7 linked regions of the Homo sapiens genome follow. The protein of the gene in region 3 purifies or fractionates together with the protein of the main gene of each other region. This does not show direct contact. Each region holds a gene or a part of one and is shown on either strand. Other genes may lie near its edges.

Evidence for each region.
Region 1: the proteins of SDHD (region 3) and DHODH purify together in Homo sapiens (affinity purification with mass spectrometry; one large-scale study listed by BioGRID and IntAct). This does not show direct contact.
Region 2: the proteins of SDHD (region 3) and SPECC1L purify together in Homo sapiens (affinity purification with mass spectrometry; one large-scale study listed by BioGRID and IntAct). This does not show direct contact.
Region 4: the proteins of SDHD (region 3) and TBC1D24 purify together in Homo sapiens (affinity purification with mass spectrometry; one large-scale study listed by BioGRID and IntAct). This does not show direct contact.
Region 5: the proteins of SDHD (region 3) and SDHC purify together in Homo sapiens (affinity purification with mass spectrometry; one large-scale study listed by BioGRID and IntAct). This does not show direct contact.
Region 6: the proteins of SDHD (region 3) and SDHB purify together in Homo sapiens (affinity purification with mass spectrometry; one large-scale study listed by BioGRID and IntAct). This does not show direct contact.
Region 7: the proteins of SDHD (region 3) and PPIL3 purify together in Homo sapiens (affinity purification with mass spectrometry; one large-scale study listed by BioGRID and IntAct). This does not show direct contact.

What each region holds. Positions count from the first base shown.
Region 1 is NC_000016.10:72,018,744-72,022,914, reverse strand, and holds part of DHODH (dihydroorotate dehydrogenase (quinone), mitochondrial), read right to left. Parts: intron 1,792-4,171; coding exon 1,604-1,791; intron 554-1,603; coding exon 440-553; intron 1-439. UniProt on the Homo sapiens protein: Catalyzes the conversion of dihydroorotate to orotate with quinone as electron acceptor. Required for UMP biosynthesis via de novo pathway.
Region 2 is NC_000022.11:24,273,540-24,277,710, reverse strand, and holds part of SPECC1L (cytospin-A), read right to left. Parts: intron 1,012-4,171; 5' UTR 908-1,011; intron 1-907. UniProt on the Homo sapiens protein: Involved in cytokinesis and spindle organization. May play a role in actin cytoskeleton organization and microtubule stabilization and hence required for proper cell adhesion and migration.
Region 3 is NC_000011.10:112,093,084-112,096,965, forward strand, and holds the end of SDHD (succinate dehydrogenase [ubiquinone] cytochrome b small subunit, mitochondrial isoform a precursor), read left to right. Parts: coding exon of another isoform or gene 1-114; exon of another isoform or gene 115-126; intron 127-1,721; coding exon 1,722-1,887; 3' UTR 1,888-2,711; downstream 2,712-3,882. UniProt on the Homo sapiens protein: Membrane-anchoring subunit of succinate dehydrogenase (SDH) that is involved in complex II of the mitochondrial electron transport chain and is responsible for transferring electrons from succinate to ubiquinone (coenzyme Q).
Region 4 is NC_000016.10:2,491,686-2,495,856, forward strand, and holds part of TBC1D24 (TBC1 domain family member 24), read left to right. Parts: intron 1-4,171. UniProt on the Homo sapiens protein: May act as a GTPase-activating protein for Rab family protein(s). Involved in neuronal projections development, probably through a negative modulation of ARF6 function. Involved in the regulation of synaptic vesicle trafficking.
Region 5 is NC_000001.11:161,351,969-161,356,139, forward strand, and holds part of SDHC (succinate dehydrogenase cytochrome b560 subunit, mitochondrial isoform 1 precursor), read left to right. Parts: intron 1-4,171. UniProt on the Homo sapiens protein: Membrane-anchoring subunit of succinate dehydrogenase (SDH) that is involved in complex II of the mitochondrial electron transport chain and is responsible for transferring electrons from succinate to ubiquinone (coenzyme Q).
Region 6 is NC_000001.11:17,032,974-17,037,144, reverse strand, and holds part of SDHB (succinate dehydrogenase [ubiquinone] iron-sulfur subunit, mitochondrial isoform 1 precursor), read left to right. Parts: intron 1-3,999; coding exon 4,000-4,085; intron 4,086-4,171. UniProt on the Homo sapiens protein: Iron-sulfur protein (IP) subunit of the succinate dehydrogenase complex (mitochondrial respiratory chain complex II), responsible for transferring electrons from succinate to ubiquinone (coenzyme Q).
Region 7 is NC_000002.12:200,875,517-200,879,687, reverse strand, and holds part of PPIL3 (peptidyl-prolyl cis-trans isomerase-like 3), read left to right. Parts: intron 1-2,650; coding exon 2,651-2,769; intron 2,770-4,171. UniProt on the Homo sapiens protein: PPIases accelerate the folding of proteins. It catalyzes the cis-trans isomerization of proline imidic peptide bonds in oligopeptides. May be involved in pre-mRNA splicing.

The sequences.
Region 1 (4,171 bases), on a different chromosome or scaffold from region 3:
ACCCAATTACAGTGTCTTGTCTGAGGCCCCCAGGTAGTAAGTGGTGGAACCAGGATTTGAACCCACGATGGCCGGGCTCAGTCTGTTTCCACTACTCTCCTATGCCACAGAGACCCGCTGTCCAGACAGGCTGGAGAGAGGAGTGAGAGAAAGAATTTTCAGTCCCAGTCAAGACTGGCCAAGGAGCCAAGCTCAAGCCTTAAACTTGCTGGATGCAGTTGACAAAAGAGAGGAAGAGGCATTAGAAAAACTCCTTCAAGCACTTATTCCAACATTCGCTTTTGACCACAGGGTGAGTTACACCATGACACACACCAAACCAGCCTTGAATACCAAGGAGAGGAAATCACAAAGAACGCCATTCTGGGCTAGCCCAGCTGGCCAAACGGCCTCTGCAGACCATGGGAGGCACACCCTGGGCCCAGGCCCCGACTCAAACCTCTTTGACCACACTGGCAATGTCCTCCTTATCCTGGCTGGTGAGGTCAGGAGCGATCTTCACCAGGACTGCCGGCCTGTGCACTCTCCGCAAGCCATCCCTCTCCTGCAGCACCTAGGGCGACACACGGCCAGAGCTGGGGACCCCGCAGACCACAGCCCTGCAGTGCAGCTGTGACCTACGCTGCAGGTCAGTGGGTTTCCACAATAGCGATCAAACTAAAGCAGAAACAATTTCTTTTCAGGAAAGCCAGCCCTCAGACGTGAGGAGTACAGTCGAGATGGATCCGATTCCATTCTTTTAGGCCAAGGGATCCCGTGGACATTGGCTAATAGCTCAAGGGTGTTTTAGACTTTTCTTTTCTTTTTTTTTTTTTTTTTTTGAGACAAGGTCGCACTCTGTCACCCACACTGGAGTGTAGTAGCATGATCACGGCTCACTGTAGCCTGCACCTCCCTGGGCTCAGGCGATCCTTCCACTTCAGCCTCCAGAGTATCAGGGACTACAGGTGTGCACCACCATGCCCAGCTAATTTCTGTATTTCTTGTAAGATGGGGTTTTGCCAAGTTGCCCAGGCTGGTCAGCTCCTGAGCTCAAGTGATCTGCCTGCCTCGGCCTCCAAGTAGCTGGGGCTATAGGCTTGAGCCACTGTGCCTGGCTAATTTTTAAATTTTTGTAGAGACAGGGTCTTGCTCTTTTGCCCAGGCTGGTCTCAAATTCCTGGGTTATAAGTGATCCACCTGCCTTGGCCTCCCATAGTGCTGGTATTACAGGCATGAGCCACGGTGTCCAACGTTTTTTAGACTTTTATTCCTAAAAGATAACCAGGAAATATTACCACATGTACTGGGTGATGAAGTCCTTCAGTTCACTCAGAGCTCTGGGCGCTAGGGTCAGAGTGACAAATGAGAGAGACGTGGTGTCTGCTCTTACAGACCCCGTGATTTATAGCAGCAGGGACAGATAATTTGTCACCGTCGCATATAATCAGTGTCATGAGAGGGGATCAGAGGGGACTCTGGGAAGGTATAGCCAGGGGTCCTACTGGTCTAGGTGCTAAGGACAGCTTCTGAGGGTGATGCTGAAGGTTCGCCCTGGAGAATGAAGGGGAGCAGGTGGGACAGGCTGGTGGGACAGGGCCTGGAGAGGGGTGCAGCTGCCCACCTTGGTCAGCAGGCGGCGCAGCTCGGCCTTTCCCTGAAGGCTCCGCAGCCCGGCAGTGTTGGGGCTGGACACATTCACCACCAGGTAGTCGGCCAGGGGGCCCAGTACGCGCACCCCTTCTGCGTAGTCCTCCGCGGCGTCCACTGAGGTCTTGTTCTTCCCCAAGTTGACCCCCAGAGGCAGTCCATCTGCAAACATCGCTGGTCAGGCCTGCACCCCGCACACCCTTTCCTGTGCCACCTTCTGAGGCTGCCCTTGACCAAACCACCTGTGGACAGCCGCGCAGGCCTTCCCTCCAAACCTGACCTGCCCGACACCGGCTGACAGGTGCTCAACTGCGGCCTGGGCCCGCCTGCTGACCAAAACCACTCACTGGCTTTGTCTAGCAAAGTCTGGGCAGCTACGAGGATGTTTTGCTGCATTTTGCCCTTTTTATTTTTAAAATTTTCATGGAAAATGGACAAATTACTGCAAATACTTGTGGGGCAAAAGATGGGCCTCATAAATTGAATAAAACTGAGAACAGAGAGAACTCAGTAGGCACATCAGGCCCGCAACTCTCACCTCAAGGAATGCTTGTTGGCCTTGGCTCGGTTGACTGGATGTACAGTTGCGAAGAAAAAACAAAATGAAAGAACATGTATAAAATACTGAAAAACAGGCCAGGTGCGGTGGCTCACGCCTATAATCCCAGCACTTTGGGTGGTCAAGGGCAGAGGATTGCTTGAGCCCAGGAATTCAAGACCAGTCTGGGCAACATGGTGAAACCCTATCTCTATAATTGAAAACTCAGCCGGGAGCAGTGGTGCACACCTGTAGTCCTAGCTGCTCGGGAGGCTGAAGTAGGATTGAGGCTCCAATGAACCGTGATCGCGCCACTGCACTCCAGCCTAAGGAGCAGAGCAAGACTCTGTCTCAAAAAAAAGAAAAAAAAAAAAAATATATATATATATACACATATATATATATATATATATATATACACATATACATATACACATATATATATACTGGAAAATGTTTTTTGTTTTTTTTTTTGAGATGGAGTCTCACTGTTGCCCAGGCTGGAATGTGGTGGCACAATCTTGGCTCACTGCAACCTCCGTCCCCTGAATTCAAGCAATTCTCCTGTCTCAGCCTCCTGAGTAGCTGGGATTACACGCATGTGCCACCACGCCCAGCTAATTTTTGTATTTTTAGTAGAGATGGGGTTTCACCATGTTGGCCAGGATGGTCTCCATCTCCAGACCTCATGATCTGCCCACCTCAGCCTCCCAAAGTGCTGGGATTACAGGCGTGAGCCACTGCAACCGGCCTAATTTTTGTATTTTTAGTAGAGAAGGGGTTTCACCATGTTGGCCAGGCTGGTCTCAAACCCCTGACCTCAAATGATCCGCTTGCCTTGGCCTTCCAGAGTGTTAGGATTACAGGCGTGAGCCACCATGCCCGGCCAAATGTTTTCAATTATCATGCCTAAAATGTAGAGGTGTAATTGTTTTCTAACTTATAATTTTAGTTCTCTGAGGAAAGGGACTCTCCCTCATATAATAACTGAGGGTACCCTGTATCTTAGGTGCTCCCTGGACAACCTGATTACTCCCCTAGCCTGGGCATCATTGTTAACACCTGCCCCTTTTTACTCTCAAGAGGGTCTCAGTTTACATGTAAGCAATTAGGTCAGCTTACTTAAAAATCCACAGGACTATCAATGGACTTGCATTTTGGACCTCCAGAAAAAATACATTTTCAGAAACACACTATGTGTAAAAGAAACGGGTTGTCTCTACTTGACTTCTTCTAAGTTTACTATCTTATCTGCACGGGGAGTGGTACATCAATGGTACAGGCTGTACTTTTGATCTGAGAGTTGGGGGAAGAATTAGAACACCAAGTAGCTCACAAAATGTGTTGTCAGGCCAGAGAGGATCAAACAACATCTATTGTACTGCTCACCACCTTCCCAACCCCAATCACACTCTCGCATCATCAGCAAATGAGATGAGTGTAGCTACTTTCCAGGGTGGGGACTGGAGGAGGGGATCAGAACCCAATTAGAAGCCGGGCGCAGCAGCTCACGCCTGTAATCCCAGCACTTTGGGAGGCTGAGGTGGGTGGATCAATTGAGGTCAGGAGTTCAAGACCAGCCTGGCCAACACGGTGAAACCCTGTCTCTACTAAAAATATAAAAATTAGTCAGGCATGGTGGTGGGCGCCTATAATCTCAGCTACTTGGGAGGCTGAGAAAGGAGAATCGCTTGAACCTGGGAGGTGGAGGCTACTGTGAGCTGAGATTGCACCACTGTTGCCTGGGCAATAGCGGGAGACTCTGTCTCAAAAGAAACAAAGAATCCAATTAGACAAAAGGTTTATCATAAGGTCTCCAAGCTTCCCAGTCTAGCACCCATCAAGCCAAGATCATCTGTAAGCTTGAATTCTTTTCCTCACAAGTAAACTGACTTGAAGGAGAATATCACTTTCATGTAGCTAACGGATTAGGAGTCATCTGCCCAAACTGACAAGATTTGGGAGTTAGACAGAAATTGCTGGATTACTCTGTCCCCAGAGGGC
Region 2 (4,171 bases), on a different chromosome or scaffold from region 3:
GAAGTGCTAATACATGCTACAACAGGGACAGACCTTGATAACATTTTGCTAAATGAAAAAAGCCAAACAAAAGGTCACATGTTGTATGATGCCATTTACATAAAAATACCTAGACTAGGCAAATCCATAGAGACACAAAGATCAGTGACTGCCCAGAGCCAGAGGGAGTGGTGAATGTGAAATGACTACTAATGAGTACAGACTTCTTTTTGAGGTATTGAACATGTTATGGAATCAGATGGTGGTGATCAATGCATAACTTTGTGAATATACCAAAAACCACATGAAAGGTACACTTTAAAAGCCTGAATTTTAAGGTATGTGAATTATATCTCCATAAACCTGTGATTTTGTTAATATACGCTTATTTGCAAATGAATACATGGATAATGAGGAATAATATGAAAGGTTAATGACAACCTTGGTGATAGGGTACCGGAGACTGGGAGAGGAAGATAAGTGTTGAGGTAGAAGAAGACAAAAAATAAAAGACCAAAACAATAATCCAAAGCCAGGGGCCATGAGTTGGGAGATGGAGCAAGACGAAGTGTACAAAGAAATGAGCATAAATCATAAAAATGAGGGAACTAGGGTTGAAAAACCCAGTAAGTAGTTTGTAATGGGGGAGACGAAGCAAACCTAAGTAACTGCAATGATTCAACAGAATTTGCAGAAAATGCAGAAGGGCGAGAAAAACAATGAAAAAATGGATCAGAAGATTTAAAATTGGCTCTACCCCACCAAAGTTTTAAAAAGCAAGCAAGAAGAAAATTCAGTTGCTCCTGGGCAAGAATTCTTGGGCCCAGTGGGGTAGAACCAAACCATGATAAGGAGACACCAGTGTTTTGTAAGCAAGAGAATATATTAAGGAGAGAAAAGGGGCATTTATTGGGAGAAAAGGTCTCACTGTGATTGTTCTGGAATAAAGTAGCCCCATCGGACTGCCTCAGGAACTCATGATGGAAGAGGTGCCACTGGAAAATGGCTTAGTCGGGATCTTCCCCAAGAACACTAGAAGAGAGAGAGGAAGAATAGAATAGCTTTAAATTTTAGCAGATATTTCTTTTTCTTGTTTAATTAAAATAAACCTTATTGACCTAATATTTTTGAGACTGGGCTCTTGCAATGCTGCCCAAGCTGAACTCAAACTCCTAGGCTCAAGAGATTCTCCCACTTCAGCCTCCTGAAAAGCTGGCACTACAGGTGCGCACCACTGGGTCCAGCATAATGGCTATTTCTTGACAAATCTTGACAATGCCACCAGTATGTTTTTCTTTAGAGACAGAGTCTCGCTTCGTAGCCCAGGCTGGAGAACAGTGGTGTGATCCCTAGCTCACTGCAGCCTCAAACACCTGGACTCAGGAGATCCCCCTGCCTCAGCCTCTCAAGTACCTGAGACCACAGGTGCGCACCACCACACCTGGCGAATTTTATTTTTTTTTATTATACTTTAAGTTCTAGGGTACATACACCTGGCTAATTATAAAATGTTTATCTGTACAGACAGGGTCCCGTTATGTCGCCCAGGCTGGTCTCGAACTCTCGGCCTCAAGCAGTCCTCTCCTCTTCACCTTCCAAAGCCCTGAAATATGCCCACATCCAGCCTGCCACCAGTTTCTTTGCATACTTCTTTCCTAGGCTTGACCAAGACCTTTACTTTCTTCTGTGTACAGCTCAGCATTGAAAAAAAAAAGTTTAGGCTGGGCACAATGGGTCACACCTGTAATCCCAACACTTAGGGTGGCCAAGGCGGGAGGTTTGCTTGAACCCAGGAGTTCCACACCAGCCTAGGCAAGATGGCAAGACCACGTCTCTCAAAAACAATTTTTGTAAAATTAGCCAGGTGTGCTGGTGCGGGCCTGCAGTCTCAGCTAGTGAGAAGACTAAGGCAAGAGGAACCCTTGAACCCAGGAGTTCAAGGCTACGGTGAGCTGTGATCACCTCTCCAGCCTGGGTGATAGGGTGAGACTCAGTCTCTGAAAACAACTAAAAATAAAAAAAGTTGAATAATGAGTCTTCTTTTTAGAGGCAATGTATTTTTCCTCTTTAACTTTTTGTTTTCCTTAGGCTATATGCACAATAGACAAAGTTGAAATTTAATCTTAATCTCTTAAACCCTTACTGTCCAAACACATCAAACTCAAAAAAAAAAAAAAAAGGTGAAAGGTGTACAAGAGAAAAAAGGGAAGTGATCTGTGTCAAATGTACATTCCTTCCACAATTTGGGATAAAAATGATGCCTACCTGGTCTCTGGGTGCCAAAATAAGACATTAGAGACACTCCCCTCCTTCAAGAAATAAAATTGGAATCAGACACTAAGGTACAATTAAACAGACTTTGAAAAGTTGGTACGCACTACTGGGAGGTGTCTCACAGCTGTCAGGGTCAAGTGCAACTAGAATAAAAGCTCCTAAGGGCAGAAACTAAGTGGCTCACTTCCTCTGTAACACTGCCGTGCCCAGCACTGTACCAGCACCCCAGCAGAGTCAACAACTTTCTGTCAAGCCACACACTTACGGTCTCATTGTCCAGTGGAGGCCGCAGACGAGACATAGTGTGCCAAATCCCAAATGCACAGGGTGCCAGACAAGTCTGCAGGAGGCAGGAGGACTAGGGAAGCCTTCCAGGCAAGGTGATGCCTGAGCTGAGTTGTTTTTCTTTTGAGTTTGGAACATTAATTTAATCGGAGGAAAACAAGGGACATGAAAAGGGCAAGGAAATAAGAAAATGAGCTGAGTTTTGAAGGCAATGATCAGATGAAGTGAGAGAAGAATATTCCAGCAGAGGGAGACAAGGAGACTGCAGAGATTTCAAGGGGCCAAGAGCTGTTCAGTGCAGCTCAGTGAAGCACCTAAACAGAGGTAGGGGAAGGAGAACAGGGGTCAAAGCCCAGTATTGAAGTGTTCTGGATACCAAGCTAAGGAGACCTTATTACGAAGGTACTGGGGCTGCTGAAGGGTTTAAATGGGAAAGTGATTGTGAACAGATTAATAGTTTGGAAAGATACAGGCAGAAGTAAACCTCTGGATTTAACCAAAAAATAAAGGACAGAACCACAATGAAGATGTTTGGAAAAGATCAGGAAAAACACTGTTAAAAGATATTCACTCTCTTCTCTTATTTACAGATTTCCTTTATGGAATACCAAATTATTCTTTGAAAATAGAGAACTCAGAAGTGGCTGAGAGCAGTCAGTCAGTCTTCAGAATGTAAAAACTACTATTCTGAAGAAGTAGATATTACATTATTAATTTCATTTCAAGATGCTTTAAAAACGTGCCTTTTGATACACTGCAGGTTTTTTAAGAGTATGTCACAATAACTCTAAATCTTACTTGAAATTAATAGAAGAGCACTATAAATTTTAAAGGCTTCACAGACACAGGGATCATCTGTTATGTTCACTTTGGAACAGATCATAATTGTCCCTCCCTCTCAACATACCCAAAATACGTTGTTTAAGGCTACTTTCCTAATGGTCATGTTATTTCACAGTAAAAGACTGAGGTCACAATGATTTCTGAGCTGACAGAAAACCCCATGGGGGTTCTTTACCTCGCATCTAGTCTATTCAGTACTAACAATTCCAACCACCAGAAAGAATTTCCCTGCCTAGGCTTATTTGTTGGCACAACACAAAAAAATCTCCTGGGGCTGGGTGAGGTGGCTAGTGCCTGTAATCTCAGCACTTTGGGAGGCCAAGGCAGGCGGATCACCTGAGGTCGGGAGTTCCAGACCAGCCTGACCAACATGGAAAAACCCTGTCTCTACTAAAAATACAAAATCAGCCAGGGGTGGTGGCACATGCCTGTAATCCCACCTACTTGGGAGGCTGAGGCAGGAGAATCGCTTGAACCTGGGAGGCGTAGGTTGCGGTGAGCGGAGATCATGCCATTAGACTCCAGCCTGGGCAACAAGAGCGAAACTGTCTCAAAAACAATTATATCTAATAAAAAAGATCTATTTAACAATGATCAGAATAGGAACATCTTTAATGCCATGCAAATTTAACAGCTTTCTCAGTGGATTTCTCAGTAGACTGTGACCAATGATCTCAAAATAAACTCATATTTACTCTTAAGAAATACTCTATATTTGAATCTTCTTAACAGCAAAAGCCCCAGGAACTTTTTCCTGAACTCCCTAACAGCAGCAGGAAAACAAGAGATT
Region 3 (3,882 bases):
GAGTGCAATGGTGCGATCTTGGCTCGGCACGATCTCGGCTCAGCACGATCTCAGCTTACTGCAACCTCCGCCTTTCGGGTTCAAGCGATTCTCCTGCCTCAGCCTCCCAAGTAGCTGGCATTACAGGCATGTGCCACCACGCCTGGCTAATTTTGTATTTTTTGTAGAGATGGGGTTTCTCCTTGTTGGTCAGGCTGGTCTTGAACTCCCAACATCAGGTGATCCGCCCACTTCACCCACCCAAAGTGCTGGGATTACAGGTGTGAGCCACCACGCCCAGTGGTGTATGGGTTCTTTTATATGAAATGTCTAGAACAGGCAAAGCCATAGAGACAGAAAGTAAATTTGTAGTTGGGTAGTGGGCTAAGAGGTAGAGGGTTTCTTTTTGGGGTAATGAGAATGTTCTGGAATTAAATGATGATTGCACAACTCAATATACTAAAAACCAGTGGATTATATACTAAAAAGCGTGAATTTTTTCTGGCGTTTGACTTACATTGCAATAAAACTGTTATAAAAATAGTAAAATTAGGTCACTCCTAATCTCAGGCACTCCCTGCTTAAAATGTATCAGTGGTTTCCTATTATATTTCATATAAAATTCAGATTCCTTATCATGACCTTCAAGACCCTATGCAACCGACCCCTGCCTTCCTCTGATCTCTGCTTCACCCATGTGCTCCAGCCACACAAATCTTACTATTCATTAGAGATGCCACTTTGGTTTGGATGTTCTCATTCATGTCTTCCTTTCTAAAGTGTTTCTTCTCAGTACATATATATTTACTTTTTCCTTCTCATTCACTAGTATATTCCATAAGGGTAGGGATGCTGTCTCACTTACTATACTCCCAACATTTATGACAGATTCTGGCACATGATATCTACTTAATAAATTCTTTTTGAATTAATTAAAAATACTGTAGAGTTTTAGTTATTTTTAGTTATTGGGGTGAAAGGATCACTTGCAGCCAAGAGTTCAAGACCAGCCTGGGCATCATGGTGAGACCGCATCTTTAAAGAAATAAAAAACAGGCCAGGCGCAGTAGCTCACGCCTGTAGTCCCAACACTTTGGGAGGCTGAGGTGGGCGGATCACAAGGTCAGGAGTTCGAGACCAGCCTGGCCAATATGGTGAAACCCTGTCTCTACTAAAAATACAAAAATTAGCTGGGTGTGGTGGTGGGCGCCTGTAGTCCCAGCTACTTGGGAGGCTGGGGCAGGAGAATCACTTGAACCCGGGAGGCGGAGGTTGTAGTGAGCCGAGATCGTGCCACTGCACTCCAGCCTGGGCAAAAGAGCGAGACTCTGTCTCAATAAATAAATAAATAAATAAATAAATAGAAGGAAATAAAAAACAATTAGCCGGGCATGGAGGCATGCTCCTATAGTCCCAGCTACTTGGGAGGCTGAGGCAGGAGGATCACTTGAGCTCAGGAGTTCGAGGCTGTAGTGAGCTATGATCAGGCCACTGCACTCCAGCGTGGGCAACAGAGTAAGACTTTGTCTCTAAAGAAAAGTCACTAGAAATAGACTTACTGACATACACACGCAAAAGGCTATACAGAATCCCCTAAAGAAGCAAACAGTGACAGTGGAGTGGCAAATGGAGACATTGCATTTGAACTTGACAGATTGTTTTTTTGCAGCCAAGTTATCTGTATAGTCTTCTAATTTCACTGTGGTTTTTTATTGATGTTATGATTTTTTCTTTTTCTTTAGGGGCCTTGGACAAGTTGTTACTGACTATGTTCATGGGGATGCCTTGCAGAAAGCTGCCAAGGCAGGGCTTTTGGCACTTTCAGCTTTAACCTTTGCTGGGCTTTGCTATTTCAACTATCACGATGTGGGCATCTGCAAAGCTGTTGCCATGCTGTGGAAGCTCTGACCTTTTTGACTTCATACTTTGAAGAATTGATGTATGCCTCTTTGCCTCTGCTTTGTCATGCCATTAAGCTCACAATAAGGAAGAAATAACAGATAAGTCCATTGGTGGACAGCCTTCTTCTCTTAATCACAAGATTATTTTCAGAATTTAATCTTTGAGGAAAAGGTTTGAGAGGAATTATATCTAAGTTGTGAGACTGAGTTCTATATTCTGGTGAGTTAATGGGGTTGCCTCCCAGCTTCTTATAAGACTCACAGTATAACTAAACATGATATATCAGCTTTTGCCTTTCAATTTATCAATCTCTTAAAGAGAATCCAACTTTATTACGATTAGTATATGATCAAACTTCCATATTTGCCTTGGGAATAATGGACAAAGGGAAATACTCTTAATTCATGAATAAAAACTTTGCAGAAAATTAGACAGTGTTTAATTTTCGAAAACTTCCCTCTCTAGACAGTAGATACCACCTACTGATGGTTACATATACTAGGGAAATTTTAAAATTAGGAAATGCTGATAGCTCATATTATAAATTTCTAAATCCTAGGAAGAAACGCTTGGAGTGCTTCTGAATATACAGAAGTTCCATTTAAGGGCAAGTTTCCCTGTAGATGTATCAAAATACTACCAACTGTAAATTGAGATTTAATTCCCAAATGTATTCTACTTGTTCTAAAACAATCTGTCCACAAATATAAAACTATAAGTAATAAATTGTTATTTTCGCACAATGGGAATCTCTAATGTGAAAATGTATTCTATGAAAATAATTTTTTTAAATAAAATGTTATATAATAAAAGTGTCTTCTATGCTTTTATATATTAGCTATCAGTAGTTTTATTCATTAGAATTAGGTGTCCATTGCATCCACAGCATGAAAACAAAATTGGGTTTTTTTTTTTTTTTGAGACGGAGTCGCACTCTGTCACCCAGGTTGGAGTGCAGTGGCGTGATCTCGGAGCACTGCAAGCTCCGCCTCCCAGGTTCATGTCATTCTCCTGCCTCAGCCCCCCGAGTAACTGGGATTACAGGCACCCACCACCACGCCCAGCTAATATTTTGTATTTTCAGTGGACATGGGGTTTCACCGTGTTAGCAAGGATGGTCTCGAACTGCTGACCTCGTGATCCACCCATCTTGGCCTCCCAGAGTGCTGGGATTACAGGCATGAGCCACCCCGCCCAGCCAAAATTGAGTGTTTAAATTTTCTTCTGGGGCTTAGCAGTTAGGTAAATCAGACACAAAGTACTGGAAAACAAAAAGGACTTGTAATAGGCAGAAAAATACCAAGTGTATAAGTAATTTGGTATAAACAGAGTATAAGGTTTAGTATTTAGGAATAAGAACTATGTCCAGATTATGGTGTTCTGTGAATACCAGCCTTTGGAATTCATATTATGTTCTATGTGTATTTAGTCTGGTCTAAGAGTTGAGTGTAAGGCATGATGCTGTCTTCTATCAATATAGAGTAACTGGGACTAAGCACATTTTACTCACCAAGGACCTTACTGGGAAGCTGAGGCAAAGGAAGAGTATGTGTTTATGAATGTGTACTAGGGGTTAAAGACATGCTCTCCTTGATGTGCCTGTGGTCTTGTAGAGACTCAAGTGTGCATTAGGGTTTAGGAAGAGGTGATTAATTCTGTTTTGGGGTGGGTAAAAGGTTTCAAAAGAGGGTGATGCCTGAATAGCAGTGGCACACCAACAGATAGTGGTGGTGGGACCAGTCCACCCTGGTGGGAGAGAATATATAAACAATATTCTGACATTGTTTAGAATTGCTGATGCTTGATGATGATAAAAAACAAATGGACTAAAAGTCAATTTTATTGTTTTAAAATTCTCTATAGACGATCCCCTCCCCACCTTGTAGTGTCATTCCTTCCCTTCCCTAGCTCTCAGTATACTGCTGCTGTAGAGTGGAGTGATGAAATGGAGTCTTCCATAAAGTCAAAATGGGGATGGCAGTGACTCTGGATAATATGGGA
Region 4 (4,171 bases), on a different chromosome or scaffold from region 3:
CTGGGACTACAGGCATGTGCCACCACACCCAGCTAATTTTTTGTATTTTTAGTAGAGACGGGGTTTTACCTGCTGGCCAGGCTGGTCTCAAACTCCTAACCCTGTGATCCACCTGCCTCGGCCTCCCAAAGTGCTGGGATTACAGGCATGAGCCACCGTGCTTGGCCCGCCTGGCTAATTTTGGTATTTTTTTGTAGAGATGGGGTTTTGCCATGTTGTGTGGGCTAGTCTTGAACTCCTGGGCTTGGCGTCCAAAGGTCGTCCCCGTTCAGCCTCCCAAATAGCTGGGATTACAGGTGCATGCCACCAGGCCTGGCCATTTTTTTTTATTTTTGGTAGAGATGAGGTCTCATTATGTTGCCCAGGCTGGTCTTGAACTCCTGGGCTGAAGTGATCCTCCTGCCTGAGCCTCCCAAAGTGCTGGGATTACAGATGTGAGCCCCTTTGCTGGCCTGGACCTGGTTTTTATAGATGCCTTAAGTGGGTTGTTGCCTTGTGTGCACAGCCCCAGAAATGTCGTGCGCTCTTTTTGAGTGAGGGTTTGGGGAACAAGAAAGAATCCAAGGGCTCCCTCGGGTCTTTTGCACACATCCTTGGCTCGGGGGTCCCTGTGAGTCCAGCACGTCGCCGGACCATTCGCGGCAGTAAACACAACTTGGGATCTGCATCTCCCTAAGGGAACTTCGCAAGGTGCACCCACAGCTTTTACTGTTTCCAGTTTAATATTCAACCTGAATCTGGGGCCAGCCGAGTGGAGGCTGGTGCTGCTCTGCCCAGCTCCTGTTCTGTTTAGAAACATGTTTATTGCCTTAAGAAGGAGCCAGTTCTTTCACCCAAACAGGATGGGCCTGGAGTTCCTCCAGAGGCTAGTGGGCCCATAGCAGGGAAGGAGGGATGTAAGCTGTGGATAACCGACCGACACGTGTAAGATTGTGCAGTGTGACCCAGGCGTGGCTGTGCGCATGTGAGTGGACCTGTCGGCCTGACCTTCAGGACCAGGGAAAGGGGGAGCCCTCACTGCCTTCCCTCCCAGGACGAAGCAAACCAATCAATGGTCTTAAGGGTTTCTTTTCTTCTGAGGCCTAGTCCTGCTGTGGGCAAGGTTTTTCCAGTGGGATACATTAAAATCAACTTCGGTGGCTCACGCTTCTAATCTCAGCACTTTGGGAGGCTGAGGCGGGCGGATCACCTGAGGTCGGGAGTTCGAGACCAGCCTGACCAACATGGACAATCCCTGTCTCTACTAAAAATACAAAATTAGCCGGGCGTGGTGGCACATGCCTGTAATCCCAGCTACTTGGGAGGCTGAGGCAGGGGAATCGCTTGAACCCAGGGAGGCGGAGGTTGCAGTGAGCTGAGATTACGCCACTGCACTCCAGCCTGGACGACAGTGCGGCACTCTGTCTCAAAAAAATAAATAAATAAAAAATGGCTAAAATGGTAAATTTTTTGTTTGTTTGTTTGTTTGTTTGAGACAGAGTCTTGCTCTGTCGCCTGGGCTGGAGTGCAGTGGCACAATCTCGGCTCACTGCAATCTCCGCCTCCCAGGTTCACGTCATTCTCCTGCCTCAGCCTCCCGAGTAGCTGGTACTACAGGCTCCCGCAACCACGCCCGGCTAGTTTTTTTGTATTTTTAGTAGAGACAGGGTTTCACTGTGTTAGCCAGGATGGTCTCGATCTCCTGACCTCGTGATCCACCCGCCTCGGCCTCCCAAAGTGCTGGGATTACAGGCGTGAGCCACCGCGTCCGGCCTAACATGGTAAATTTTATGCTATGTGTATTTTACCACACACACAAAAACACGTGTCGAGGTGTTTTCCCAAGACAGTGTCTCGCAGACGTACGTTTTACACTATGATTTTTACTTTTCAAGAACTGTTTTAAAGCAGTATTTGCCTTATAATAGGTAGGTGAATGTTCTAGCTGCAAGAGAAACCGGAGTGGTCTGGTCACTCAACCAAAACCTGCTGAAGCAGACCCCTGGGGCACACTGGGAACTTCTACCATCCCAGGTGGAAAGGTTAGTCTGATGTGCGTAAGCAAACCTTGCACTTCTGTGCGCAGGACGGTATCCTTGGGCCAGGGCAGCCACCTGTTGTCCAGAATCCCACAGGGCACGTCTTACCCACTCCTTTTATGTTTGCCTGAGCCCAGGGGTTGCTGTTCTTGGAGAAACACCAACCACCCCCACTTGACTTCTGGCCCATTCGGATCCAGAAATGTGCAGTTTTAAAGCTGCAGCACCTTCCATTTAGGTCCCAGCTCTCCCTCTGGAAAATGCCTGCTCCTCACCAGAGATTCCTCCCTGGAGCACCTGCCTGAAGCATAGCTTTCAAGCTGGTGGTTTTAGAAAGTTAAGAGCCGGCTTCAGAATTCCGACAGGGTGGGATAGCATAGGCTGTGACTTTCTTAGCACACACAGCTGGTTAAAGAGAACTGGGAACGGGCTGGGCGTGGTGGCTCACGCCTGTAATCCCAACACTTTGGGAGGCCGAGGTGGGTGGATCACGAGATCAGGAGTTCGAGACCAGCCTGGCCAACATGGTGAAACCCCATCTCTACTAAAAATACAAAAACTGGCTGGGTGTGGTGGCGGGTGCCTGTAGTCCCAGCTACTCAGGAGGCTGAGGCAGGAGAATCACTTGAGCCCGGGAGGCGGAAGTTGCAGTGAGCCGAGATTACGCCACTGCACTCCAGCCCGTGCGACAGTGCAAGACTCTGTCTCAAAAAAAAAAAAAAAGGGAGAACTAGAACGAAGCATCTCTTTGCTCAAAGTGATCTTCTCAACTGGGGGTTCCTTTTCAGAAGGCCCCCAGGGTGCAGGGTGGTGTTTAGGAGCCTGGAGTGGACCATGCTCGAGTGGAAAGGTGTTTTCAGCAGGGTCAGCCTCTTTTTTTGGTAGAGATGGGGTCTCACCATGTTGCCCAGGCTGGTCTTGAACTCCTGGCCTCAACTAGTCCTCCCACCTTGGCCTCCTGAGTAGCTGAGATTATAGATATGAGCCACTGTGCCCAGCCAAGGGCCAAGCTCTTGAAGCCCTTCTGGGAACTCTATCTCTAGCCTCTCATTACTCAGAATCTGTGTGATGTATTCCAGTAACTTCATAAGTTCTGTGAAAAGAAGGTATACTCCAAAGTTTGTAACGGCTTCTCAAAAGTCACTTATCTTAAGTGGAAGCCCTTCTAATACTTACACAAAGATTAAGGCAAATAATGTGGCTGCGCAACGTGACTCTCACTCGTAATTCCAGCATGGTGGGAAGATCACTTGAGGCCTGCGGTTCAAGGCCAACCTGGGTGACAGAACAAGACCCCATCACACACACACACACACACACACACACACACAAAATAAATAATAATAATAATAATAAACAAAAAAACAGGCCAGGAGCACTGGCTCACACTTGTAATCCCAGCACTTTGGGAGGCTGTGGTGGGTGGATTGCTTGAGATCAGGAGTTTAAGACCAGTCTGGGTAACATGGCAAAATCTCGTCTCTACTAAAAAGAGAAAAAATTAGCTGGGCGTGGTGGCGCCTAACTGTAGTCTCAGCTATAGCTGAGGTGGGAGGATCACCTGAGCCCAGGAGGCAGAAGTTGCAGTGTGCCGAGATGGTGCCATTGCACTCTAGCCTGGATGTCAGCACAAGACCTTGTCTCAAACAAAACAAAACAAGGCCGGGCACAGTGGCTCATGCCTGTAATCCCAACATTTTGGGAGGCCAAGACAGGAGGATTGCTTGAGCCCAGGAGTTCAAGACCAGCCTGGAGAGCATAGCGAGACCCTGTCTCTACAAAAAAATAAAAAATTAGGCCAGGGCGGTGGCTCTCGTCTGTAATCCCACACTTTGGGAGGCCAAGGCAGGCACATCACAAGGTCAGGAGTTTGAGACCAGCCTGACCAACATGGTGAAACCCTGTCTCTAGTAAAAATACAAAAAATTAGCCAGGCATGGTGGTGCATGCCTTTAGTCCCAGCTACTCAGAAGGCTGAGTCTGGAGAATCGCTTGAACCAGGGGCGAGGAGGTTGCCGTGAGTGGAGATCGTGACACTGTACTCCAGCCTGGGCGACAGGGTGAGACTCCATCTCAAAAAAAAAAATTAACTGGGCATGGTGGTGGACACCTGTCGTCCCAGCTACTCAGGAGGCTGAGGCAGGAAGATGGTT
Region 5 (4,171 bases), on a different chromosome or scaffold from region 3:
AGTTACATATATAGGACTTAACTGGGGTGGATCCAGCAGGAACTGGTCTTGGCAGTCAAGAAAAAGCACTATTTAATTTTTCTCAGTGATTAGATAGGACAGCTTCAGTGGCTTTATTTTCCCAATTGAAATTGTTCAGCTGTTAGAGGACTCTCTGAGGCACTCAGATTCTAGGAGTGGGGTCAGTTTCCTGATGCCCAATATACTGAACATCAGAGGAGAATTCAGAAAATCTCATATTTAATTCTCATATGTTTTTCACTTGTAGTGATGAAAGCTTTGGCTAAAGTAGCTTTCAATTGAATTAACTGATTAATATTCCTGTTTGAAGAGGTAGAGCCTTTTTTGAAAATTAGTGAGGCAGCCAGCCAAAATGATCTCTCTCCTGATTATATCTGGCTTGGAATCTGGTAATGATCCCAGATCTCCTTGACCTCCCAGAGATTTGTATAAAAAAAAATTTTTCCTGATTACAAGAACATATTACCAAGAATGAAAATATTATACAAATGTATACTTAGAAAAGTTGCCCATAATCCCGCCAGTCAGAAATAACCAGTATTCTATGTATATCCAGAGACTGTATCATTTTATGTTTTTTGTTTAAGGACTCAACCCATCAGAAAAATACCTAATTCAAATACAACTATTGCTATAGCCATTATTTACTAAACATTTACATAATTATTTAACCCTCATAATAATCTGAGAAACAGGAGTATCTTCATTTAAGAGCTTAAGAAACTGAAGTGGCCGAGGTGGGTGGGAGGCCAAGGCGAGTGGATCACCTGAGGTCAGGAGTTTGAGACCAGCCTGGCTAATGTAGTGAAACCTCGTCTCTACTAAAAATACAAAAAAATTAGCCGGGCGTGGTGGCACACACCCGTAGTCCCAGCTACTCGGGAGGCTGAGGCAGGAGAATTGCTTGAACCTGGGAGGCGGAGGTTGCAGTCAGCTGAGATCGTGCCACCGCACTCCAGTCTGGGCGACAGAGCGAGACTCCGTCTCAAAGAAAAAAAAAGAAAAAAGAAAAAATTGGTGTGGGGGTATGTAGTAGTAGAATGATTTTGAGAACATTTGACTTATTTAGAGGCAGTCTTCTCTTTTTGAATTGATTAAACTAATTGACATAATTCTGTATTATTCATAGGAAAACAAAAGCTGAAGACACTGTTATTCACATCCTAGTATTTCCAAGAGTTTTGACTCTCGTAGGTCATTTGAGAGTAGGTGGTGTTATCCTAGGATAACACCATATCAGGGTCTGGTTTTCTGTTGGTTAATATTGGTGTGGGTGGCCATCCCTGGGACTCAGCTGTGAGCCTGTTGTCCTATTTGATGCATAGATCAGGGATGAGTTTGCCCAGATATCTAAGGCATATATTTGGCTATTGAAGTTTCAGAGCTTTGTGCTGGCACTGAAATTCAAAAGATAGTTTTGAATTTCCTATCAAAACTACCAAAAGAGGGGTTCCTGCAGTCTTCTATAATAGCTTATCATCTATCCAGAGTGTCAAAGACTCTGAACCCTCTTGAGTCATATCTTCCTCCCAAATGTTCATCAAACTGTTTGAGTTCAGGTTTACCTCAGTGTCTTCAGTAATTATTTTCATGGTGCTCCTAAGTCAAGGTAAATACCTAACACTTTTGTTTTATTAGTTTGTTAGATCCAAACAGCTTATTTATTTCTTAGCCATTGAGTAGACATTTTTTAAAAAAAATCATCCACATAGGCTGGGCACAGTGGCTGACAACTATAATCCCAGTGCTTTGGGAGGCCAAGGCAGAAGGATCGCTTGAGCCCAGGAGTTAGAGACCAGCCTGAGCAACATAGCAAGACCCCGTCTCTATGAAAAACAAAAGCAAAAACAAAATCATCCACATAAATGGAAAGAAAAAAATATTTTTATTTCATTCTTAAATAATCATACTTTTTTGTTTGTTTGTTTTTGAAACAAGATCTCACTCTGTTACCTGGGCTGGAGTGCAGTAGCACAATCACAGCTCACTTTGTGCCTGGCTAATATTTTTTATTTTTGTTTTTATTTTTTGTCTTATTTTTAGTAGAGACAGGGTCTCATTATGTTGCCCAGGCTGGTCTTGAATTCCTGGGCCCGAGTAATCCTCCCACCTCAGCCTCCTAAATTGCTAGGATTACAGGCATGAGCCACCATACCCAGCCAATCATAATTACTTACTAATAGGATGTATATGCTGTTGGATATTATACAACTCCTCCAACCTTAGAAATCAGATTGGATACTGCCACCCTCATTTCTTGTTCCACAGTGATTTTCACACAGTACTTCATTTTTGCTGAAAACCCAGCTTTGCAAAGATGTGATCATTGAAAGAAATCTAACATCTAATGTTGAAACTGAACTACCTTGAGCTAGTAGTGGTTCACATGATGACCAACAGATGTTAAGTATCACTGTGTTTCATTTGAATATGTAAAATATCCTGTAGGACCTGTGAGTTTGCTTTGGTACCCCAGGGCAGCTTGGTGTAGTTTGGAAACCACAGTTCTAGCAATGATCCCAAACTATCAAATCAGGGTCTCTGGGAGTTGTGATGTGGGTACTCTTTTTTGCTTCCCCAAAATATTTTTTGGTGATTATGGGAAACAACTGGCCTCTTCTTTTTTTCTTTTTTTTTTTTTAATTCCCATTTTACAGATGATGTCTTATTTCTTTGTGTGTGTGTGTGTGTGTGTGTGTGTGTGTGTGTGTGTGTGTGTGTTTTGTCATTTGAGATGGAGCCTCACGCCTCACTCTGTTGCCCAGGCTGGAGTGCAGTGGTGCGATCTCAGCTTCCTGCAACCTCCACCTCCCAGGTTCAAGAGTTTCTCCTGCCTCAGCCTCCTGAGTAGCTGGGACTACAGGTGTGCGCCACCACAACTGGCTCATTTTTGTATTTTTAGTAGAGATGGGGTTTCACCATGTTGCCCAGGCTGGTCTTGAACTCCTCACCACAAATAATCTGCCCACCTTGGCCTCCCAAAGTGTTGGGATTACAGGCATGAGCCACCGTGCCAGCCAAGATAACATCTTATTTCTAATTTGAGTTTCATATTTGTTATACTTGATTTCTCAGTCATTGGTGGTCGATAGCCACTGAGCTCCAACAGATAATGCAGCCCTGTCAGACATTAAAATATTCATACTTTTTCTTTCACATAGGGAAATAATCTTCCAAGTATATACACATAGCAGTTACATTATATCATTATGGTTTTGATTTGCATTTGTCTAATGGCTAATGATGTTAAGCACCTGTTCATGCACTGATTGGCCATTTATTTATCGTCCTTGGAAAGATGTCTATTCAGATCCATTTGTCATTTTATTGATTGAGTTGTAAGAGTTTTTTATGTATTCTGGATAAAAGTCCTCCATGATTTGCAAATATTTTCTCCCATTCCTTTGAGTTGTCTTTTCACTTTCTTGATGGTATTATTTGCAGCACAAAAGTTAGTAATTTTGATGAAATCCAATTCATCTGTTTTTTCTTTTGTCATTTATGATTTTGGTGTCATCTGTGAAACCACTGCCTAATCCAAGATCATGAAGATTTATTTCTATGCTTTCTACTAAGAGTTTTATAGTTTTAGTTCTAGCATTTAGGTCTCTAATTCATTTTAATTTAAATTTTTGTGTAATAGAGATTTGAATGATTTAAAATTTTTCCTCTCTTCAGAGGTAGCAACACTAGAAGATAAAGATAAAAAAAGGGCCAGGCGCAGTGGCTCATGCTGGTAATCCCAGCGCTTTGGGAGGCTGAGGTGGGCGAATCACTTGAGGCCAGGAGTTTGAGACCAGCCTGGCCAACATGGCAAAACCCTGTCTCTACTAAAAATGCAAAAATTAGCGAGGCATGGTGGCATGCATCTATAAGGCCAGCTACCTGGGAGGCTGAGGCACAAGAATGGCTTGAACCCAGGAGGCGGAGGTTGCAGTGAGCTGAGATCACGCTTACTGCACTCTAGCCTGGGCAACAGAGCGAGACTCTGTCTCAAAAAAAAAAAAAAAAAAAAGAGAACCTAATTTTTTTTCTGACTCTTCTCTGGACTGAGTACACTGTTTTTACCTTTTCTTAGTTAGATGATGAACTAGATGATATAGCAAGGCTTGATGTCTAAACTGGCAAGTGAAGTTTTTATAGAGACGGA
Region 6 (4,171 bases), on a different chromosome or scaffold from region 3:
TCATTTTATATTGTACCATGTTTTAATTATAGTTCTATTTCCTTCTAATCCGACTCTGAAACCCTACTTTGTAGCTATGTATACACACACAAAAAATAGCTATATTCTTTCATTTTCACAACAGCATAATTCTTTTTCTGAAAATACTGGCGTGTAGCAGATATTAGCAGATAAATGTATTTTTCTAGGCTAGGCATGGTGGCTCACACTTGTAATACTAGCACTTTCTTTGTGAGGCCAAGGCAGGAGGATTGCTTGAGGCCAGGAGTTTTGAGACCAGCCTGGGCAACAATAGCAAGACTTAGTCTCTACAGAAAAAATGTGTGTGTGTGTGTGTATACATATATATTTATATATGTATTTATATTTATATATTCATATTTATATAAATATTTATATTTATATATTCATATTTATATAAATATTTATATTTATATATTCATATTTATATAAATATTTATATTTATATATGTAAAACCCTGCTTACCTAGAAAAAAGCCTGTAAGTACTGTTAAAAAAACAAAAATTGGATTTCTATACACTAGCAATGAACAATCCTAAAATGAAATTTAAAAACTATTTTCCATATAACAGCATCAAAAAAGAAATTCTTAGGAACAAATTATATGGGCAATAAGACAAAACCCCATCTCTACAAAAAAAGTTAGCTGGGCTTGATGACCTTCCTGTGCCTATAGTCCCAGCTACTTGGAGGCTGAGGTGGGAGAATCACTTGAGCCTGGGAGGTCAAACCTGCAGTGAGCTGTGATCACAACACTGCACTCCATCCAGCCTGGGCGACAGAGTGAGATCCTGTCTCAAAAATCAAATAAGTAAAAGACTTATATGCTGAAAAACTGTAAAACATTGTTGAAAGAAATTTAAGAAGACATAAATAAATGGAAAGACATGCCCTGTTTGTGGGTTGGAAGACTTAATGTTGTTAAGGAGGCAGTGGTCTCCAAATTGATTTCCAGATTCATTGCAATCCCCATCAAAATCCCACCTGCCTTTTCTGCAGAAGTTGACAAGTTGATTCTAAAAATCTTATAGAAATGCAAGGGACCCAGAATATCAAACAATTTTGGTATCTATGTAAAATCTGAGAAAATTTATGTTGTACTCTTTAATGAGCCCTACCTATTAGGAAATTTAGCATGAAACAGCTTAAAGAGAGGACTTTGACTTTTTAATATTTTTCTCTGTCCCAGTATGATCTGCAGGATTACTTTTTACCTTTGATTTGAATTTATTTATTTATTTATCTATTTATTTATTTATTTTTTTGAGACAGTCTCGCTCTGTCTCCCAGGCTGGAGTGCAGTGGTGCGGTCTCGGCTCACTGCAACCTCCGCCTCTGGGGTTCAAGCAATTTTCCTGCCTCAGCCTCCCAAGTAATTGGGACTACAGGCACGTGCAACCACACCCAGCTAATTTTTTGTATTTTTAGTAGAGACGGTTTCACCACGTTAGCCAGGATGGTCTCAATCTCCTGACCTCATGATCCACCCGCCAAGGCCTCCCAAAGTGCCTCCCAAAGTGCTGGGATTACAGGCGTGAGCCACCCACCTGGCCAATTTGAAATTTTTATAGGCTGCAAATATTAGCCTTTGTAATGTAAAAAAAACAAAGATGTTGTTGTCATTTAAAATATGCTAGGACAAGAACAGGCAGATCATTAGAATAAAAATGTAGCAACAAAACAGACTCAATTTTATCTAAGTTCCCAGTATTAAATATGGGAGAAAGGTATTACAAATAAGAAGCAAAAGAGGATTTAGTCAGTGATTTGGGACAACTGATACAGTTTTTGCAGTTTTAGGGGAGTAACTTAAAATTTTTTTTAAGTAGAAAAAAATGTAAAGTATTTATCAGACCTCAGGAAGGGCAGTGGTCTGTTTAGGCTTAAAAGTGATAGATAATGTTATAAAAGAAAGAATAGCCACCTTTATTAATGTAAACATTTAACTCATGTATGTTTAAAATTCTGTTACCAAAATTAGAAGTCAAATAGCACATTACTATTGGCAGTGAGGGAGGAAGCAGAAATGGCAACAGATATAATATATAAGAGCCTCAGATCATGAAAAAGAATTTCCAAGACCCTGGTAAACAGAGGCAAAGAATGTGGACAGACTGAGTCTCTAGAATGAGTCCTCTGGAACAGAGCTTTGTGCGGGCAGGTGGTATTCGTCTCTTTTATTCTCTGCTACATCCCCAGCATCTAGAACAGAACCTGGCAGAGTAAATGTTCAATAAATAATTGGGAAATAAAGAAAAATTAGTAAATTTATGACAAACATTCAACCTATGTAGTATTCAAAAGTCTCGATTTAAAACACTGAAAACAATAACACTTCTCCAGTATCAGAATAGCAAAGGTTTTTAAAGCTTCCAATTCCCAGTGTTAGCAGAGGTCCAGCAGAAAGGACGTCTACATAGTGCTGATACAAATACAGATAATGGGCCAGACGCAGTCGCTCACACCTGTAATCCCAGCATTTGGGAAGGCTGAGGCAGGTGGATCACTTGAGGTCAGGAGTTTGAGACCAGCCTGGCCAACATGGGAAAACCTATCTCTACTAAAAATACAAAAATTTGCCGGGTGTGGTGGCATGCACCTGTAATCCCAGCTACTCGGGAGGCTGAGGCAGGAGAATCGCTTGAACCCGGAAGGTAGAGGTTGCAGTGAGCCGAGATCGCACCATTGCCTCACACCCATAATCCCAACACTTTGAGAATCCAAGGCAGGAGGATCACTTGAGTCCAGGAGTTAGAGACCAGCCTGGGCAACATGGCGAAATCCCACCTCTACAAAAAAATACAAAAATTAAGCTGGATGTGGTGGCACATACCTGTAGTCCCAGCTACTGGGGGGCTGAGGCAGGAGGATCTCTTGAGGCTGGGATGCGGAGGTTACAGATCTGAGATCGTGCCACTGCACTCCAGCCTGGGTAACAGAGCAAGACCCCGTCTCAAGAAAAAAAAGAAAAAAAATGAAATACAGATAGTACTAAAGGAAATGACGTATTTTTAAGTATATTTTTAATCTCATGCATAGAAAATTAGTGAGTGGAATGGGGGCAGGGTGGCAACCAGAAAATAGATTTGTGGAGCACTTACTGTATGCCAGGTACTATGAAAAATTACATATTTTTATGTAATTTTCACAGTAACCCTGTGGTGTAAATATTAACTCTACAGATAAACTGAGGTTCAGAGAGTAATTTCCGTAGAATCACAGTTTCTGCATGATGATTATTATAGTTAAACTATGATTTATATGTCAGATGCTGCTGTAAAGATCTCGTGTGTATTAACTCACCTCCAGCAATCCTGTGGGATGCAGGTGCTGCTCTCTGCACTCAGTGGATTAAATGCCTAGGCAGAAATTAAATCATTTGCCTGCAAGCTGGTAAGTGGCTCAGCCATGGTGCAGACCAGTCTCTTGGCTGCCAGGCCGGCACTCCAGGTCCCACGCCCAGGGATGCTCCGCTTAGTACCATGTCACTGCCCTTGTATGTTCTAGGAGGCTCACAGTGATTTGACTGGGGGACTGTGAGTGATTGGGTGTCTTTTATTCTCTGTACTATGTCTTCTCTTATGGTTATGTATTATTAATTACTATTTAAAACTATTGTCTACATCCTAAAAATCAAACTAAAATTTGAAATAAATTATTTGGAAAAACTTTGCAGGGAGCTTCAGAAGTAAAAAACAAAAACTCGGCCACTGTATGGAAGTTGTGTCATACTTGTCTACTACTACTTTAGCTTTCCATTTCCTAGAAATGTGTTTGCACTGTGATCATCAAAATAGAACTGTGCAGTACTTAAAATGTAAGAATCTGCAAAAACAAAACTACAGAACAAATTCCGAAGGTGACCTGAGAAGACCAAATGGATAAGCTAATACATCCAGGTGTCTCCGATTATATTATGATAAAGTGTAGGGAGGTTGAACGTTACATAAATACCACTGGATATTTTTCTTTGTTAGATGTGGCCCCATGGTATTGGATGCTTTAATCAAGATTAAGAATGAAGTTGACTCTACTTTGACCTTCCGAAGATCATGCAGAGAAGGTGAGCATTTCATTCCTGTTGGGCTCCAGATACTTGTGGTCTTCCAAAGAGGCTTGGGCTGGCCAAAGCTGATAGAGACATCTGGA
Region 7 (4,171 bases), on a different chromosome or scaffold from region 3:
TAATTTCTGATTTTTTGTAGAGACGAGGTCTTGCTCTGTTGCCCAGTCTGGTCTGAAACTCCTGGACTAAGATGATCCTCCTGTCTTGGCCTCCCAAAGTGTTGGGATTATAGGAGTGAGCCACTGCACTTGGCTGGAAGTTTTAAAACTATAACAGATCATGGCCTTGCCCTCCTAAAAATAAAGTCAGTAGGGCTGGTTAGGACTTAGACTATATTTTAAGGTTCCTAGATGATTCTTTTGCAGGCAGAGTTAAGAACCATTATATAGGCCGGGCGCGGTGGCTCACACCTGTAATCCCAGCACTTTGGGAGGCCGAGGCGGGCGGATCACGAGGGCAGGAGATCAAGACCATGCTGGCTAACACAGTGAAACCCCGTCTCTGCCAAAAAATACAAAAAATTAGCCAGGTGTGGTGGTGGGTGCCTGTAGTCCCAGCTACTTGGGAGGCTGAGGCAGGAGAATGGCCTGAACCCGGGAGGCAGTGCTTGCAGTGAGCCGAGATCGTGCTGCTGCACTCCAGTCTGGGCGACAGAGCGAGACTCCGTCTAAAAAAAAAAAAGAACCATTATATTATACACCTTATACACCAAGATTGTGGATATGTATTGACTCTTCATATATTCTGGCCCAGGAATTCCATTCCCAAATGTTTACTCAAGAGAAACTTGTAAGTTTGCACCAAGAGACATGTACAGGAGTGTTCTGATGTACTGTTTGTAATAGCAAAAGTCTAGAAACAACCCAAATGTCCACTGATTGTAGATGAATCACTATGTAGATTGTGGATAAATTGTAGTATATTCAGTAGTGAAATATCACATAGTAGTAAAAAAATAGTAATAAACTATGGCTATATGTACATGTATAACCTTAGAAATGTAACAATGTTATTTGTAGAAAGCATTTCCCAGAAGACTAAAATGTTACGATGTAATTATATTCAGAAGGAAAAGGAAAGAATGTGTTGTTTAGGCATGTGTAAATGTGTTAGGGCTGGGCACAGTGGCTCACTCTTATAATCCCAGCACTTTAGGGGGCCGAGGTGAGAGGAACAAGTACTTGAGGCCAGGAGTTTGAGATCAGCCTGAGCAACATATTGAGCCCTCATCTCTACTAAAAGTTAAAAAATTAGCCAGGTATGGAGGTGTACATCTGTAGTCTCAGCTACTCAGGAGGCCAAGGTGGAAGGATTGCTCAAGCCTAGGAGGTCAAGGCTACAGTGAGCTATGATTGCACCACTGCACTCTAACCTGGGTGACAGAGTGAGACCCTGTCTCTAAAAAAAAAAAAAAATGAAAAAATGAAAAAAAAAAGGTATTAGAATAGTGGTTACCTCTTGTAGAGGCTGAGGTAATAAATGGAGAGGAGCACATGGATATATGTAATTAATTGGTAACTTTTATTTTTTCTTGAGCTCCCATTATTCAATGAATTGGTAAATTTTAACTCTGAAAGCTGGGAAATATGTTAATGGGTGCTTATTTTATTAACTTACATTTTTATTAACTATATTTTTGTGTATGTATTAAATATTGTGTATGTATTAAATATTACATGTGTATTTAATATTACATTTGATTGGTGGACACCTTTTAGGGAGACAAGCATTAATATTTTGATATAGGTGCTTCTCTATGACTTATTAGCGTCACCCAATGAATAGCTAAAGCTAGAGTAATTGGTGGAGTTGTAGTGTATTACAGGCACCTCCCTGTAACATAGTTCACAGTTACATCTTCATTCTTATCAGTAAGGTCCTTTTAATTTCTATACACTGTCTCTTGTAAACAAATACTATCATGATAGTAGAGCTAGGTGAGACCTTTCTTAGATCGTTCAGTCCTGGGGTTATAAACTGACTGCCCATGAGTGGAACACCCACAGATGCATTATCTGTGGCCCTTAGTTAAAAAATATATATTTAATGTCATTAATCAAGAGATAGCCTATTCATTTTGCCAGACTTCATCTCTCTCTAATGTTTACATTCTGCCCAATTGTCAGTTTATCTGCTTGACCCTTGTGAGCATCTGAGTTATAAATAGACCCTTGAACTAGTCCAGCCTCCCTTGTTTTACAGATAAAGAAACTAGCAAGAGTCCATTGTATGTGAGAAGAGATTGTGGGCATTTTGGTTTTGTTGCCTGCCTGATCATTTCATTCCAGCACACTATTCCTTAATATAAATGTAAGGATTATTTCTATTATTTGTTGGTATTGCAAAAAGTGTCCATGGCTGTATTTCTTCAAAGTGAAAATGAAATTAATTGAGAAATATTATTTGATATATTAACCTTTTACATACAAGTTTTCAAAGGTACAGAAAAGGCAGAAACTGAACATTTGGATTATCCCTAATAGAGAGAAGTTGGTTAAATGTTTTCTTGCTCCCTTAAATATTGTGAAGGTAAAGATTGAATGTCTTGGCTGGGTGTGCTGATTCACACCTGTAATCCCAACACTTTGGAAGCTAAGGCAGGAGGATCACTTGAGCCTAGGAGTTAGAGACCAGCCTGAGCAACATAGTGAGACCCCAATCTCAAAATATTTTTAAAAAAGAAAACAAAGGTGTGCCTGTCTTGTTTCAATACTATATTTGGGATGGTTATATAAAAACACAGTTAATACTTTGATGTGTCTTTTTCAGCACAATGTTAGAGGTGTTGTATCTATGGCTAATAATGGCCCGAACACCAATGGATCTCAGTTCTTCATCACCTATGGCAAACAGCCACATTTGGACATGAAATACACCGTATTTGGAAAGTGAGTATTCTGGTTATGGTTTTCTTTTAGCATTTCAATGCAAGTGGTGCATATGCTTAGCTGTGACAGTAGCATAACTAATATTGAAAAGAGTGAGGCCGAGCGCAGTGCCTCACACCTGTAATCCCAGCACTTTGGGAGGCCAAGGTGGGCAGATTGTCTGAGGTCAGGAGTTCGAGACCAGCCTGGCCAATGTGGCAGAACCCCTGTCTCTACTAAAAATATTTTAAAAAATTAGTTGGATGTGGTGGCACACACCTGTAGTCCCAGCTACTCAGGAGGCTGAAGCAGGAGAATTGCTTGAACCTGGGAGGCGGAAGTTACAGTGAGCCGTGATCATGCCATTGCACTCCAGCCTGGGCGACAGAGTGAGACTCTGCCTCAAAAAAAAAAAAAAAAAATGAAAAGAAAAGAAAGAAAAGAAGAGTGGTGTGAGAGCTAAACGTACCTGGAGTTTAAGTCTACCACTTAGCAACCCTGTGACCTTGGGAAAGTTATAATCTCCCTGAGCTTTATTTTCCTTATTTTGTAAAAGAGGCCAGTAATTTTTCAATATTGTTATGCAAATTAACATAGTATATCTATTTTCTTTTTCTTTTTCTTTTTTTGAGACGAAAGGCTCTGTCGCCAGGCTGGAGTATGGTGCAGTAGCACAGTCATGGCTCATTGCAGCCTCAACCTCCTGGTCTCAAGTGATCTTCTCACCTCAGCCTCTTGAGTAACTGGAACCACAAATGTGTACCATCATGCGCAGCTACTTTAAAAAAAAAAAAAACAAAAAAAACACTTTTTTTTTAGAGACATGGTCTCACTATGTTGCCCAGGCTGGTCCATTTTCATTAATGATAGCATTTCACAGCAACTAACAGATCTGAAAAATAGTGGCTTAAACAAGATGGACTGGCATGGTGGTTCCATTTTGTTACCAGTGTTCTAGGCGCCTCTGTCATAATATTGGCAGCACAGCTCTTATCAAAACTTCTGTGTATCAGGGAGGAAAGGGGAGGAAAGACAAAAGGTGCTTGCCAGCTGATTCACCTTTTTTAATTAACAGAACTTTCCCAGGCCTGTAATCCCAGTGCTTTGGGAGGCTGAGACAGGAGGATCACTTGAGGCCAGGAGTTCAAGACCAGCCTGTGGAACATAGCAGAACCCATCTCTATAAAAAAAATTTAAAAATTAGCCAAGTGTGGTGACACACACCTGTAATCCCAACTACTCAGGAGGCTGAGGTGGGAGAATCACTTGAGCCCAGGAGTTCCAGGCTGCATGAGCTGAGATCACACTTCTGTACTCCAGCCTGGGCAACAATGATACCCTATCTCTAAAAAAAAAAAGATAGAAAAAAAGAAAAGCCGGGTGCGGTGGCTCACACCTGTAATCCCAGCACTTTGGGAGGCCA